2 linked regions of the Homo sapiens genome follow. Each later gene encodes a partner of the first gene's protein in a complex. Each region holds a gene or a part of one and is shown on either strand. Other genes may lie near its edges.

Region 1 (7,094 bases):
TCATTATTATGCTAAAGAATCACAATATTCCCCCCAAATTTGAATATTTTATAATTCTCTATAGTCATCAAATATGTTTGTGACCTTGGTTAAGTTCCTTAATTATTCTTATCTGGAAAACAAGATGGGAGACTAGAAAAATGATAATTGCTACCCCTAAGCTCTAAACTGCTAACAAATTCCTGGTGATTTCCATCTCTATGCCCAATATGTTCTCAGGTAATTGCCCCCAACCATGAGAAATAAAAGAAGGAGCGGGAGGCGGGGGGGAAGGCTATCTACACTTGCAGATGAGATCACTAATGTTCAGAGGAATTAACTCACTCAATTTAACCAGGTATGAAGGTATGAAGTTGCATATTCCCGTACTTTTTTGAACTATATTACAGTTTCTCACAGTACTTATAAGTTCCCAAAAGATCTTAGCTTGACAGAATGATGACCTACCCATTGTACAGATGTAAAGACAAAGAACACAAAGAACTGCCTTTGTTGAAGATCAGAAGCATAAAATAGACTTTGAAGTGGATTCAAATTTACTCTACCCAATCTGAATAATGGCCTTTTAAAAATGGAAGCTTCATTGTAAGTTTTTAGCTTTATTTTTACTATTTCACTAGCCTGACAGAAAGAACCACAAGTTGTTCTGCTAAATAGACTGAAATACAATGCAGCTTAAGCTTTAAGTGCCTTACAGTAATCTGCTAAAAGCTGTTTTGTAACTCCCTTCAGGGATGGTCCTCAAGGAATCAATCATAGGCTCTTAAAGCAACAATATGATAGAAGGAATATGGTAGCTTTTTTCCTCCTTTCCCAACAGCAAAAGCAGTGTTGTTCAGGCACTTGCCCTTTCTAGGCAGCCACAAACAGGCCCTCAACTTAAAAACTATTTTTGGAAATGTAATTCCTACCTGAAGATAGGGTATGTGTTTATTTAGAATATTACATCACCTTAGACGCTCAGCAGAAACACAGGATAAAATTTTAGTGTTAGGTTTCCTGCCCAGTCTCTTGGATGACCCCACAATCCAGTAACCAAAGGGGGCCTCACAGATACTGGTCTGGCAATATAGTACCTTTCCTGATTAATCAGTACCCATTCCAGCTGACCTTCCCCAAAGTCTTGTCATACAGATACCACCATCAGTAAACTCCATCATCCCTACTGGAGCCAGTGTGTGACTTGCAGTTGGCACCTTGTACCCCATCTTGCCCTGGTAACCACTGGTTTGCATACCATGCCTCCTGAACACCAGGCCCCATCCCTACATATTCTCTTTCTGGAGCTGGCCTGATGCCCACAGAGAAGATGGCCCTGCTGGCAGTGGTGTAGGCACTCTGAAAGGCCAATGCCTGGTGCGTACACGGGTTCCTAAAGCCATGGACACCTGCTGCTAGCAATACTCCAATTTGTGAGATTATTTGTGGGGGCTGCAGCCTCCATGTGATTTTGATTCTAAGAGAGCTAGAACCATGTCAGGTGGGTGGTAATGTGGCCCCCATGGGCACTAGCTTGGTGTTATGGGTTCTGCTGTCATTCTAGCCAAAAGGAGGGCAGTTTGGTGCCAGGAAATATCTAGGGTGGGGATCCTCCTTTTCATCATCCCTGTTGCATTTCACCCCCAATTTAATAACAGCAGTAAGTTACACCAACTGAATACCCACCTGTCATGGGATGAATACAATTTTTTAAAAATAAAAATGAGAGCTTAAAACATACAGTGCTTACTCTGCCAGGCACTGTCCTAAATACTTATATTTACCAGCACTCTCATTTTATAGATAAGGAAAATCTGAGGCACAGAGAAGTTATGTAAAATTTAAATGGCAAGCTAGGATTTGTACCCAGGTGTTCTAGCAACAGAGCCCACACTTTTAACCGCTTTGCTAATGCTGCTTCTCATCTGCCTGAAAGACAAAATCTGATCTAAAGATGACTTTTTTTTTTTTTTTGAGATGGAGCCTCACTCTGTCTCCCAGGCTGGAGTGCAGTGGTGTGATCTCAGCTTACTGCAACCTCCGCCTCCCAGGTTCAAGCGGTTCTTCTGCCTCAGCCTCCCCGGTAGCTGGGACTACAGGCATATGCCACATGCCCAGCTAATTTTTGTATTTTTAGCAGAGATGGGACCTTCCCACGTTGGCCAGGCTGATCTCAAACTCCTGACCTGAAGTGATCTGCCTGCCTTAGCTTCCCAAAGTGCTGGAATTGCAGGTATAAGCGACTGTGCTCAGCCTAAAAATGACTTCCTAATAAATTATATTCTTTGACCTAGACAATATAGTTAATACATAAAAATCTCAGACAAAAAGTAAAATGTTATTGGTGGTAGTTCAACAAAATCTGAAAGAACACTCAGTACTATGAACAGTAGCATTGATGTTAGGAGAAATTCTCTACTTATTGAGATTACAAAGCACTTAATAGGTATTGTTTTCAGAGAGAAGTCAGTACAATAGTTTCACATAGTTCCCTGTGTCACATTATGGATCAGATGGGGCATAATTTACTTAGTGAGAACCACCAACACACACATGGACATATAACAAGCAATTTTGTAACACACATATAGGAATTTCATTGTTTTGGAGAATAAAAAGGAAATATTCTTATATTTTGAGTTATATATTAATTTATATAACCAGATGATTGATAAAATATTTTGGACATTCCTAAATAAAACACCAAAACTCAAAATGTATCTTACTCTCCTTCCATATCCCAAGAGTTATTTAGGCCCATCTTTCACAAAAAGAATCTGTAATTGACATCTTTTTAAAAGGAGGCGGGCAGTAGAAGAAGGGGTACGGCAGGTGAGGGAAGAGTTAGTTCTGTTGTACCACCTTTTTTTAAAAACATGGTTTCATTTAATGATCACAACATGGTGGTTATTAACCTCATTTAACAATCGATGAAACCATGGGCAGACAACAGGCAGATTTACTCCTCATGCCACTCTGTAACGATCACCTCTAATGATTCCTAGTTCAGATGCTACAACTCTTTGAATTTTTAATTTACTAATACATTTCTAAGGCTGTGGCTGATATGGAACTCAATCTAGTAGCACACATTGCTCACTGACAGGCAAGCAAATTAATCTATGACTTCTCTACTGGAAATTACCTTATTTGAAGCATTAATAATAATTGCAGGATACCAACCAAGAGAGCAGAGGTTGACATTTTTTGAGGCCCAGACCCTTTAAGAATCAAATGAAGTCCGGCACGGTGGCTCACGCCTGTAATCCCAGCACTTTGGGAGGCCGAGGTGGGAGGATCACAAGGTCAGGAGTGTGAGACCATCCTGGCTAACATGGTGAAATCCCATCTCTACTAAAACTACAAAAAAATTAGCCAGGTGTGGTGGCAGGCACCTGTAGTCCCAGCTACTTGGGAGGCTGAGGCAGAATGGCGTGAACCCGGGAAGCGGAGCTTGCAGTGAGCGGAGATTGCACCACTGTACTCCAGCCTGAGCCACTGTACTCCAGCCTGAGCTACAGAGCAAGACTCATCTCAAAAAAAAAAAAAAAAAGAAAAAAGAAAAGAAAAAAGAAAATTGTGGATCTTTTACTCAGAAAAATACACAACTGCAAAAACACGAAAACCTACACATAATTTTAAGGAGTTCACAGAGTTCCTGCAATGTATCCATGTACCCAGGATTAAGAATCTGTTTATCAAATTGAAGAACAGGAAAGACCTCAATTTGCAAGGAACTACATGTGTATATAATTGGAACACACACTGGCGTGGGAGCCTGAAGTGACTTCAAAATCCAGTTTTGCTCTTTCTAGAATTGTGTGACCTAGGATAAGTCATTTAACTTTCCAAACCTCAATTTTCTCATTGTTAAAGTGAAGGAACTATATTAAATAATTGTCAGTCTCAGGCAACTCTAAAATCTTAGAAATTATTTAGTTCTTAGTTGTGAGAGTCTAATCTAAGAGGCTCTTTTTTTAAAAAAAAAACTTTGACGTATAATTTGCATACAATAAAAGTGAACTCATTTTAAGTGTACGCTTCAATAGATTTTTGAGAAATTTATACACCTAAGTAACTGCTACCATAATGAAGATATAGATCCATTCACCCCAAAAAGTTCTTTAATGCCCTTTTCAGTAAACCCCATACTCAGCCTGAGGCAATCATGGGTGTTTTCTGCTACTATAGATTAGGTCTGCCTTTTCCAGAAATTATTAATATGCAGTAATATTTATTGAGCATACCATGTTTCAGGCACTGTGGATTACATCATTTTATTCTCAAAATTCTAAGAGGAAACAGGTTAATAGAGGTTTAATGTGCTCAAGGTCACACAGCCAGTGTACAGCAGAATGAGACTGAAACTCTACTTCTCTCTAGAATCGATGAGTTCTATCTGGTCTCAAGGATAGAAAGCACAAATACTCCTCCAAGTTGAAGAAATTACTCTTAAGAACCCAAAAAAACTTTCTTAAATTTAATATTCCCTTAGCACAGAACTCATTAACAGCTGGATTTGGATACACAGTGAGCTCAATTACATACCTGGACACATAGAATCATCATGAGAAATCTGATTTAGATTATGAGTTATCCTTAACACTTCCAAGAATAGAAAAAAGCTCTATAGTACATTACCGTAGATTATTAATTGTAACCTGCTAAAGTCAACAGTCCTGGCCAGGCACAGAGACAGGTTCACACCTGTAATCCCAGCACTTTGGGAGGCTGAGGCTGGTGGATCACTTGAGGTCAGGAGTTTCAACACAGTGAAACCCTGCCCCTACTAAAAATACAAAAATTAGCCTGGTGTGGTGTCGTTTGCCTGTAATCCCAGCTACTCAAGAGGCTGAGGTGGGAGAATCGACTGAACCCAGAAGGTCGAGGTTGCGGTGAGCCAAGATCACACCACTGCACTCCAGCCTGGGTAACAAAGCGAGATCCTGTCTCAAAAACATAAAATAAAATAAAAAAATAAAGTCAACAGTCCTGTTCTTTTAATAAGTGTGTTAAAAAACTTTCATATTATCAAAATTTAGGTGGTAACTCTCCCTCCTTTTCTGTTTAATGATTTGTATATGGAAAATGTATTTCAAATGACACCTTTTTTCCCCAAGAAAGCTTAACATACAGATAAGGTATTTACCAAAGTAAGTTACCAATGGTTAACTCCAAGTGTCACACAGGGTACTGACAGTTTAAGTTGGTCTTCTATTTCTGAAAGATTTTAACACATAATGTGAAAAGTATAAAGATGTTTATAAATTATTTTAAATAAAACATGACATTTATCTATAAATGGTAAAGAAAATGATTTCCTTCTCTGAGTAAACTAAAAAATTGATGCTGATGGTTTCTTAAACAGAAAATAGCCAAATTATCAATGTAACTTTATGTTTAAGGGCCAAAATAGCTGTTTATTTTCCTGCCAATACATAAAGAATGGAATCAGACTGAAATAGAGATTATTTTCCCAAGTCTGGAGATCAACACGTGGATTTGGGTGTCAGCATGGTATTCCAAGAAAATGAACTTTCTAATAGTGCTGGAAGTACTAAATTAGCTTACCTTCATAATTTTATAAGAGCCAGAATGTATCTTTTTTTTTTTTTTTTTTTTAAGATGGAGTTTCGCTCTTGTTGCCCAGGCTCGAGTGCAATGGCACAATCTCAGCTCACTATAACCTGCGCCTCCCAGGTTCAAGCGATTGTCCTGCCTCAGCCTCCCAAGTAGCTGGGATTACAAGCGCATGCCATGACGCCAGGCTAATTTTTCTATTTTTAGCAAAGACGGGGTTTCACTACGTTGGCCAGGCTGGTCTCGAACTCCTGACCTTATGATCCACCTGCCTCAGCCTCCCAAAGTGCTGGGATTACAGGCATGAGCCACCATGCCCGGCCCAGAATGTATTTTTTCAAAATAACTTTTAAAAAATGAAAGTGAATAAGGAAAGATAAGTTAGGCAATTTGCCTAAAGCTTCATCAGGAGACTCGGGAGGAGAAAGTGAATTAAATCCTTTAGAGTGCAGTGTTCTTTCTACTTGCCAAAAAGGAAGGCATCTGGCAGTCCATGACAGCTTCAATAAAAAGATGTAAAATAACTAATGATGCTGCTGGTTAGGCGGAAAGTGAGAGAAAGACAAGTGTTTAGGGATGCTAGAATTGTCAGTGGAAATCAGTGGGAAATTAAAAACAAAACAAAACAAAAACACATCCCCTAAAGGCTTACCTCCGGTTGTTTCACAAGCATAACATCCATTACAGAATACCTATGGCATGCAAAGATTTGTAGTTTTCTTTTTCCTTTGAGACAGGGTCTCACTATGTCGCCTAAGCTGAAGTGCGGTAGCATGATCATGGCTCACTGCAGCCTGGAAAATTTTTAAACATTTTTTGTAGAGATAGGTTCCTACTGTGTTGCCAAGGCTGGTCTTGAACTCCCGGCCTCAAGTGATCCTCCTGCCTTGGCCTCCCAAAGTGCTGGGATTATAGGTGTGTGAGCCTTTAATTTGGGAATTAAATTCCCAAAGCTGAAGTCTGGGAACAAGTCACATATCAGTGAGTGAATCTAGCCAACCACTGAGCATTTTGTTATTCTTTCTTTCATTTTTTTTTAAAGATGGAGTCTTGCTCTTGTCTCCCAGGCTGAAGTGCAATGGCACGATTTTGGCTCACTGCAACCTCCACATCCTGGGTTCAAGTGATTCTCCCGCCTCAGCCTCCTGAGTAGCTGGGATTACAGGCGCCTGCCACCATGCCCAGCTAATTTTTGTATTTTTAGTAGAGATGAGGTTTCACCACGTTGGCCAGGCTGGTCTGGAACTCTTGACCTCAGGTGATCTATCCGCCTTGGCCTCCCAAAGTGCTGGGATTACAGGCATGAGCCACAGTACCCGGCCGCATTTTGTTATTCTTACTTAATCTTTAGAATAATCCTGTGTGGTACTTCTGTCCTTATTTATTAGAGGAGAGAAAAAAGAAATTATGCTCAATGGTAGCGGTAATGAATATATGAAGATGTTAGGATGTATTCCATCAAGAATGACAACAGCAAGGTCGGGCGCAGTGGCTCATGCCTGTAATCCCAGCACTTTGGGGGCTGAGGCGGGCAG
Region 2 (7,877 bases), on another chromosome or scaffold:
ACCATTTATTCCAATATGTCTTACATATATTATCCTTTTCTGTTGCACTATGAAAAAGGTTTATCATTTAAAGAATATAAGAAGGCAAATATAGGTACTGGAATGTCTAAGCATTCACCAAAATGCATACTTTTTTTTTTTTTTTTTGAGACGGAGTTTCACTCGTTGCCCAGGGTGAAGTGCAGTGGCGTGATCCTGGCTCACTGCAATCTCTGCCTCCCAGGTTCAAGCCATTCTCCCACCTCAGCCTACTGAATAGCTGGGATTACAGGCATGCGCCACCACACCTGGCTAATTTTGTATTTTTAGTAGAGACAGGGTTTCATCATATTGGCCAGGCTTGCCTCGAACTCCTGACCTCAGGTGATCCACCCATCTCGGCCTCCGAAAGTGCTGGGATTACAGGCGTGAGTCACCGCGCCTGGCATAAAATGCATACTTTTAAACTACATGTACAGTGGGCAAATTCCTACAACGCCTTTACACATTTGTAGTTAGGACCAAGTTCTATAAACCAACCTTATGTCTGCTCAAAAGTTTGAAATTTCCCAATAATTGTAGTTTTACTTTGCCAACAACATTTAAGCAACCTGAAAATACCTACAAATTGAACAGGCATTCAAGAGGAGCCGCTTGGGCTGCATCACCACTATCAAGACACTATGGAAATTACCTAATGATTGACTTTCAGAGAAAATCTTCAGTCTCACAAGAAAATCTGTCTTTCGTCACCGTTTTTATAAAGTGATCAAGACAAGGTCTCACTACGTTGTGACAGTTATCACAGACTTTATATATGTTACTTTATATTTTTCTGAGACAGGGTTTTGCTGGTCTCAAACACCTGGGCTCAAGCCATCCTCCTTCCTCAACCTCCCAAAGCGCTGGGATTACACGGTGAGCCACCATGCCTGGCAATTGCATCATCTTTTTTGATCATTTCGTTCAGCATCTCGTTCATCGACTGAGAAGTGACCTGAAATAACTTCCAACCATTAACATACCCTCCCTCCTCCCAAAAGAACAAACCTCTAGCGATTAGGTCGCACACTCATGCGCTCTCACACGCACACAAACCCGGTCCTTTCCCTCCTCATTACAGTACCATGGGCAAGTCACCTCCACCTAGAAAGGTCTGTCTTCTCATTAGCAGCTGTTCATGTATTTTGTTTAAAGCAAAACACCTGGAGTAGATCACAGATCTAAAGATATTAAGCAATTTTTATTCTAAATTTTACTCTAAAAGTCATCACATTCTAAACACTGTGATGGCCAGGCATGTTGGCTCATGCCTGTAATTGCAGCACTTTGGGAGGCCAAGGAAGGAAGATCGCTTGAGCCCTGGAGTCGGAGACCAGCCTGGGCAACAGAGCAAGGCTCTACAAAAAATTAAAAAATTAGCCGTGGTGGTGTCTGCCGGTAGTCCCAGCTAGTCAGGAGGGTGAGGCAAAAGGATCGCTTGAACCCAGGAGGCGAAGGCTGCAGTGAGCCGAGAACTGTGCCACTGCACTCCAGCCTGGGTGACAGAGTGAGATCCTGTCTCAAAAACAATAAATAAATTAAATAAAGACTGTGATAAATGTCTTAACAGCAATTCCCCAAAAAAGCCTTTAAACCCTTTTGATCAATGGCCCACGTCCACTCCTACAGCCTACTAATCTGTTCTAGAGTAGTAAATTCTAGTATATTGTAAAAAATACAAAGTGCTACTACACACCATTTTATTTTTCAGTTATTCATATTCACTCTCTTCCTCTTCAAAGTTAAATTCCCAGATACAAGTAGGCAAGAAGATTCAGCACTAACAATGAGACAATCCACCTGGAAAACAGGTAAGTATGGGAACTCAAATTGAAGCAGATTATCTAAAACACATCAGCTTACACAGTAACAACAAATCCAAAGAGCTCGAGCGAGATGACCATTCACAACGCTGTCAATGGCAACAACAGTTAAAAACAGAAGGCCACAGGTGTTGGTTAGCAGGCTCTTCGGGGAAGGTGAAGGAGGTAAAGAATCAAAGGAAGTTTCCAAAGAAAATAGCGATTAGTGCTGAAAAACAAAAAGGAGGGATGCAATTTGGGTTACCAGAGAAAACTGCTTGTAGAAACCAGTACAATCTCCGAATCCTTCGCAATACTATAAAATAAGCATCCTCATTGCATGCCAAGTGCTTCTTTAACCTGTAATCCACCCCGTCCTCTCCCTCAAAATCTGCGTTAAACTGAATTTTAAAAACATTTTAGGGGAGGGGGTAAGCAGTTGGTTTCCCGCTTGACAGTAATTGTGGCCACGGAGCGCGAAGCTCCACACTCCACACAGCGCGCCACCCACAGAGGCGCTTCTCAAAAGTTGCCACCCATCTTGGCCACGAGTCCCGGGACACGGACTCGCCTCCTCCGACGACGGCAGCCGGGACCGGCCGGGATCCGGGAGCCCAGCGCCGACCCTCTCCCCTCTGCGCGCCGCCGCCGCCGCCGTCAATCAACGCCCCCCTCCCAGGGACTCGGCCCGGGGGCGCGGCCCGGGGCGGGGCGCGATCGCGGCGCGTCGAAGGGGCCCCCAACAGCCGCCAGCTTGCGGAGCAGCGGGACCGCCGCCCACGAAACGAAAGTTGCCCGCGACCGAGCCCGGCCGACGGGGGGCGGTCCGTGCGCGGCCGGAGAGAGGAGCGGCGCCCCGACCGGGCCTCCGGCCTGCCTCGCTCACCTCTCGGGGTGCGCCGCCTTCCTCCGCCGCTGCCGCCTCCTCCTCCCTGTGAGTGCAGCGGGGTCTGCCCTGTGGAACCACCATACCAGTCCCGCCCGCTGCTGCAGCGCCGCCACCGCCGCCGCTCCTCTGCCGCCTTAGTCGCTGCTCTTTGTTCCCCCTCCGAGAGCCACTGCTTCGGCTGCCCGCCTCAGCCGCCCCGACGGGCCGCCACTACGCCCTCCCGCCCTCTCGGCCCCCGGCCTCGCCCTCCTCGCTGCGCCCGCCGCTGCCTTCGCCTCCGCGCCGCCGTCGCCGCCGCCACCGACGCCGCCGCCTCCTCCTCCGCGCCCCCCTCGTTTTCATTGAAAGCAAACAAGCATCATGGCGGCGGCCGCCGTCCCTCAGCCAGCGAGCGCCCGGACCGCCGCCGGCGCTCCAACATCCTGGCCGCTCATTGGGCGCCGTCGCCGGGCACAACCATCCGCCCTTCGGTGCGGGGGTCGCTCCCGGCACGCAGCTGCCCAGGCCCCGCCCCCTTACCCCCGCGCTGGAGAGCGGTGGACCGGCCCGGCGCGCTGCGGGCCCTGCCTCCCTGCCTGCCGCCCTCCATCCCTTCCTCTCCGTCCATCCTTCGTCTCCTTCTGTTCCCGCTCTCCTCGCTCCTTTCCTGCCTTGGCACTTCTGTTTTCTCCTCTCCTTAGCGCTCCTCCATTTTTCATCTACTTCTTTTTCCGCCCCAGGTTGTCCACTTTTTTTTTGTTTTTTGAGACGGTGTCTTGCTCTTTCACCCAGGCCAGAGTGCAGTGGGGCGATCTTGGCTCACTGCAAGCTCCGCCTCCCGGGTTCACACCATTCTCCTGCCTCAGCCTCCCGAGTAGCTGGGACTACAGGCGCCCGCCACCGCGCCCGGCTCATTTTTTGTATTTTTAGTAGAGACGGGGTTTCACCGTGTTAGCCAGGATGGTCTCCATCTCCTGACCTCGTGATCCGCCCACCTCCGCCTCCCAAAGTGCTGGGATGGCAGGCGTGAGCCACCGCGCCCGGCTGGGTTGTCCACTTTTATCTCCTCTTTTCCTTGATCGTCCTCCCCTTTTTTTCTCCTCTTCCTTTTCCTTAAGCCTTCGCCTGTCAATCACGTCGAAACACAGTATTTGACCGGAGCCAGTATCTTGATCTGCCTAAAGACAAGACATTCAATCGTGAACAGTCGAATATTATTCCTTCCTCAATTATACAAAGAAGAGTAAGTTAACATACCACTTCAGCCTATTAATGGTAATTCATTCCATTACATTAATGGACAGTTTTGGTGCTGGGGTCCTAGCCTGGGTAACGGACAGCAGCTGCTGTGCTCCAAGATCAAAAGGTGTTCAGGGCAAACTCTGGTGTTTGAAGGTCAGCAGAGAAATGACTGGGCTGATTCATGATGCTTACATCAAGAAATATTAGTTGACTGATGGTCAGGGCACAGAGATGAATCAGACCCCACCCAGCCCTGAGTAAGCTCACAGTCTAGGGGCAAGAATAACACCCAACAGACTTAATATTGGAGGTATATTGGTCGGGCGCGGTGGCTCACGCCTGTAATCCCAGCACTTTGGGAGGCCGAGGGGGGCAGATCACCTGAGGTCCGGAGTTGGAAAACAGCCTGACCAACATGGCGAAACTTCGTCCCTACTAAAAGTACAAAAAATTAGCCAGGTCTGGTGGCTTGCACCTGTAATCCCAGCTACTCGGGAGGCTGAGGCAGGCAGGAGAATCATTTGAACCTGGGAGGCGGAGGTTGTAGTAAGCGGAGATCGCACCATTGCACTCAGGCCTGGGCAGCAAGAGCGAAACCCTGTCTCAAAAAAAAAAAAAAAATTTGAGCTATATGTTGAAGGCGTGAAGGAAAAGGAAAGCTGCCTGCCCACCTATGTGGCAAACTAGGATAGGCTGCTAACTGCTTCCTGGAAAATCAACCCTGAAGAAATGAGAGTGAGACAGGTTCCAGGAACTAACAGTAGCAACAAACCGAGGCTTCTGCTTCAGTGAAGGCTGTTGAGAGCTGGGGATGTGGGAAATGGGTTGCTGTTGCCTGGGGTGGAGGAGACCTGGCTGGAAGGGCAAGGAAAGGATGAGGGACAAAAGCTGTTCAGAGGTGAAGATGATCCCCCTCTCCCCAGCACGGCCTTGGGATGGTCATCGCTTGGCACTGCCATGACATCAGGAGTGACAGCCCAGGCCTCTAGCGCCATAGGACACTGGGCAAAGACAGAGCAGTGCAGAAGTTTAGGAGTCAGGAAGAACACATGTAGACCAGTAAGCTGCCTGTGGCCATCCCTCCACAACCTCCTCCTGTACAGCAGGGAGTTGTGCGGCCCTGTGCTGTACAGAGTATCCCAGGCTGAGGGGCCAATGGGACAGACACCCTGCAGGGCCTCTCCTCCCTGTGTGAGTGCCCTGGCCGTCTGTGCTCCAGCCTGGGTGCCTTTTTGTAATTTGGCCAGAGGCAGCTACCTCAGCCCGGTGCGGGGACTCAACGCCTGTAATCCCAGCACTTTGGGAGGCCGAGGCGGGCAGATGACTTGAGGCCAGGAGTTCGAGACCAGCCTGGCCAACATGGCAAAACCCCGTCTCTACTAAAAATACAAAAAAAAAAAAAAAAATTAGCTGGGTGCAGTGGCGGGCACCTGTAATCCCAGCTACTTAGGAGGCTGAGGCATGAGAATCGCTTGAATCCAGGAGGCAGAGGTTGCAGTGAGCTAAGGTTGCGCCATGGCACTCCAGCCTGGGCAACAGAGCAAGACTGTCTCAAAAAAAAAAAAAAAAAAACTCAAACAAAACAAAACAAAAAACAGAGGGAGCAATTCCCTTGTGACTGGCACGACTGTATGGAGGAGGGGAGGTCTTGTTGCACAAAATCTTGGTAGCATAAAGCAACAGTTTTACTGTATCTCATGATTCTGATGTTCACCCTTGGGGCCTCATGCCTATACCAAAGGTGGCAGCTGGGTGTTGAATGTCTGGCACCTCGCTGCCCCCTAACGAGGCCTCCCCCGCAGTGTCTCATCCTTCAGCCTTTGTGTGTGGCCCCTTTCCCCAGCAGGAGGTGATCCTGCACTTCCTACATGACAACCAGGGGCTCCAAGAGGAAAGCGAAGCTGCCAGGCCTTCTGAAGAAGGCCACTTCCTCAATATTCTATGAATTAAAGCAGGCACAAGCCCAAGCCAGATTCAAGAGGAGAGGACATAAGCTGTGGAGGAGCTGCGCGTGCATGCAGGGCGGGGTGGACTAATTGGAGCCCTCTGGGGAGACTTGCTGCCACCAGGAGGGTACGATAGTGGCTCTGCTGTGCATGCCCTTTTCTTTCTGCATATCCGAGGAGAACCCCGCAAAATACCTACTCACCCTTTCAGGCCAGATCAAAGTGCCCCTCATGTTAGGCCAGACCTCCCATTGCAAGTTATAAAACTCACAACTCAATATTTCTTTGCAAGAAGGAGGGAATTGAATTGAAAGAGGGAATGCTGAACCATTCAGGCATTGTAAGGTGGCATCAAGAATCGATCTCACCTCCCACCCTCCATCCTGTTCTCTCTGCAGGCCTCACAAGCGGGAAAGATGCCACCAACACCTGCAGGCTTAGATTCTACCAGCTTCTCCGCTTAGAGAAGGTGCTTCTTTCCTAATGATTCCAGCCAAAGACCCAGGGCAGGCTCTCACTGGCCTGGCCTGGGCCTTGTTTCTACTGCAGTCAGGCAGTACCAAAGCAGGACCAGTCTGGGATTGATACGTGCTAAGCGAGGACAGCATGAATTGGTGGCAGCCAGTGCCATCTTCCCCACCACATGGAGAGATGAGACACTGGTGAAGATGTGGAGTCTCAGAGCAAGGGCCTGACAACTTGTTTCAGTAGTTTTTTCCTTTAGCTCGTGACCTATACCAGAACCTATTCCAGGTATACAAACCAATACTTTTTTTTTTTCGCTTAAGTTTGAGTTTGGCTTCTGTAGCTTACAACCAAAATAATTCTAATTTGACCAGTAAATGCGTTGCACAGAGGGATGCGTCACCAGAATAGGGTCATCATCCGATGTGCACAGCAAGTCAATGCGCCAAGACACCAGGCTGCAGCAGAGGAGGTTTGAATCCTAGGGCCACTGGATGTGGAGACAAGAAGAAACCAAATCTGCCTCCCTGATGAGTTTGGGGCTAGGATTTTCAAGGGTTTTGGAGTGGGCTGAAGAATGGAGATTGCTGGTTTGTCAAGGAGAGCAGGATGAAGCCGTGCTGATTCTCATGCTGATTGGTTCCTTTGGGCAAGGGTTGGGGGTCTTCAAACTGGTTGGCATCACCTGTTCGACTGGAGTTCAGGATCTGCTTGAGCACTTCTTTCATATTTATTTACTTATTTTTGTTTTTTTATTTTTTTCCCTGAGACAGAGTCTTGCTCTGTTGCCCAGGCTGGAGCACAGTGGCACAATCTCGGCTTGTTGCAAGCTCCACCTCCCAGATTCAAGCAATTCTCCTGCCTCAGTTTCCCGAGTAGCTGGGATTACAGAGGCACACCACCACACCCAGCTAATTTTTGTATTTTTAGTAGAGACGGGGTTTCACCACGTTGGCCAGGCTGGTCTTGAACTCCTGACCTCGTGATTTACCCGCCTCGGCCTCCCAAAATGCTGGGATTACAGGTGTGAGCCACTGTACCCGGCCTATATTTATTTATGTTACTGTATTTTTGAGACAGGTTCTCACTCTGTCACCCAGGCTGGAGTGCAGTGGCATGATCACGGCTCACTGCAGTCTCAACCTCCTTGGGCTCAGGTGATCCTCCCACCTCAGCCTCCGGAGAGGCTGGGACTGCAGGCATACACCACACCCCGTTAATTGTTGTTGTTGACATGGGGTTTCACCTTGTTGCCCAGGCTGGTCTCCAGCTCCTGCCCTCAAGCAATCTGCCCGCCTCGGCCTCCCAAAGTGCTAGTATTACAGGCGTGAGCCACTGTGCCAGGCTGCTTAAGTGATTTTTAAACAAAAGCCTTAGGACCCTAACATCAGAAATCCCATCTGTAGTAACAGCGGGGGTGCATAATGGTCAGTGTCCGGAGCTACATGACTTTCTGTTACAAGGAAGTGGGCCTAAGTGCCGCCTGATTAATGCTTAATTATAACTATATTTCTGTCCGGGATTCCTGTTAAC

The links. The genes of interacting proteins can lie anywhere in the genome.
Region 2: CNOT9 (region 1) and CNOT6 share a complex: the UniProt entries of both Homo sapiens proteins name them as parts of the CCR4-NOT complex.

Annotation. Positions count from the first base shown.
Region 1 is NC_000002.12:218,571,826-218,578,919, reverse strand, and holds part of CNOT9 (CCR4-NOT transcription complex subunit 9), read right to left. Parts: intron 1-7,094. UniProt on the Homo sapiens protein: Component of the CCR4-NOT complex which is one of the major cellular mRNA deadenylases and is linked to various cellular processes including bulk mRNA degradation, miRNA-mediated repression, translational repression during translational initiation and general transcription regulation.
Region 2 is NC_000005.10:180,489,596-180,497,472, reverse strand, and holds the start of CNOT6 (CCR4-NOT transcription complex subunit 6), read right to left. Parts: upstream 3,095-7,877; 5' UTR 2,710-3,094; intron 2,053-2,709; exon of another isoform or gene 1,885-2,052; intron 1,822-1,884; exon of another isoform or gene 1,718-1,821; intron 1-1,717. UniProt on the Homo sapiens protein: Poly(A) nuclease with 3'-5' RNase activity.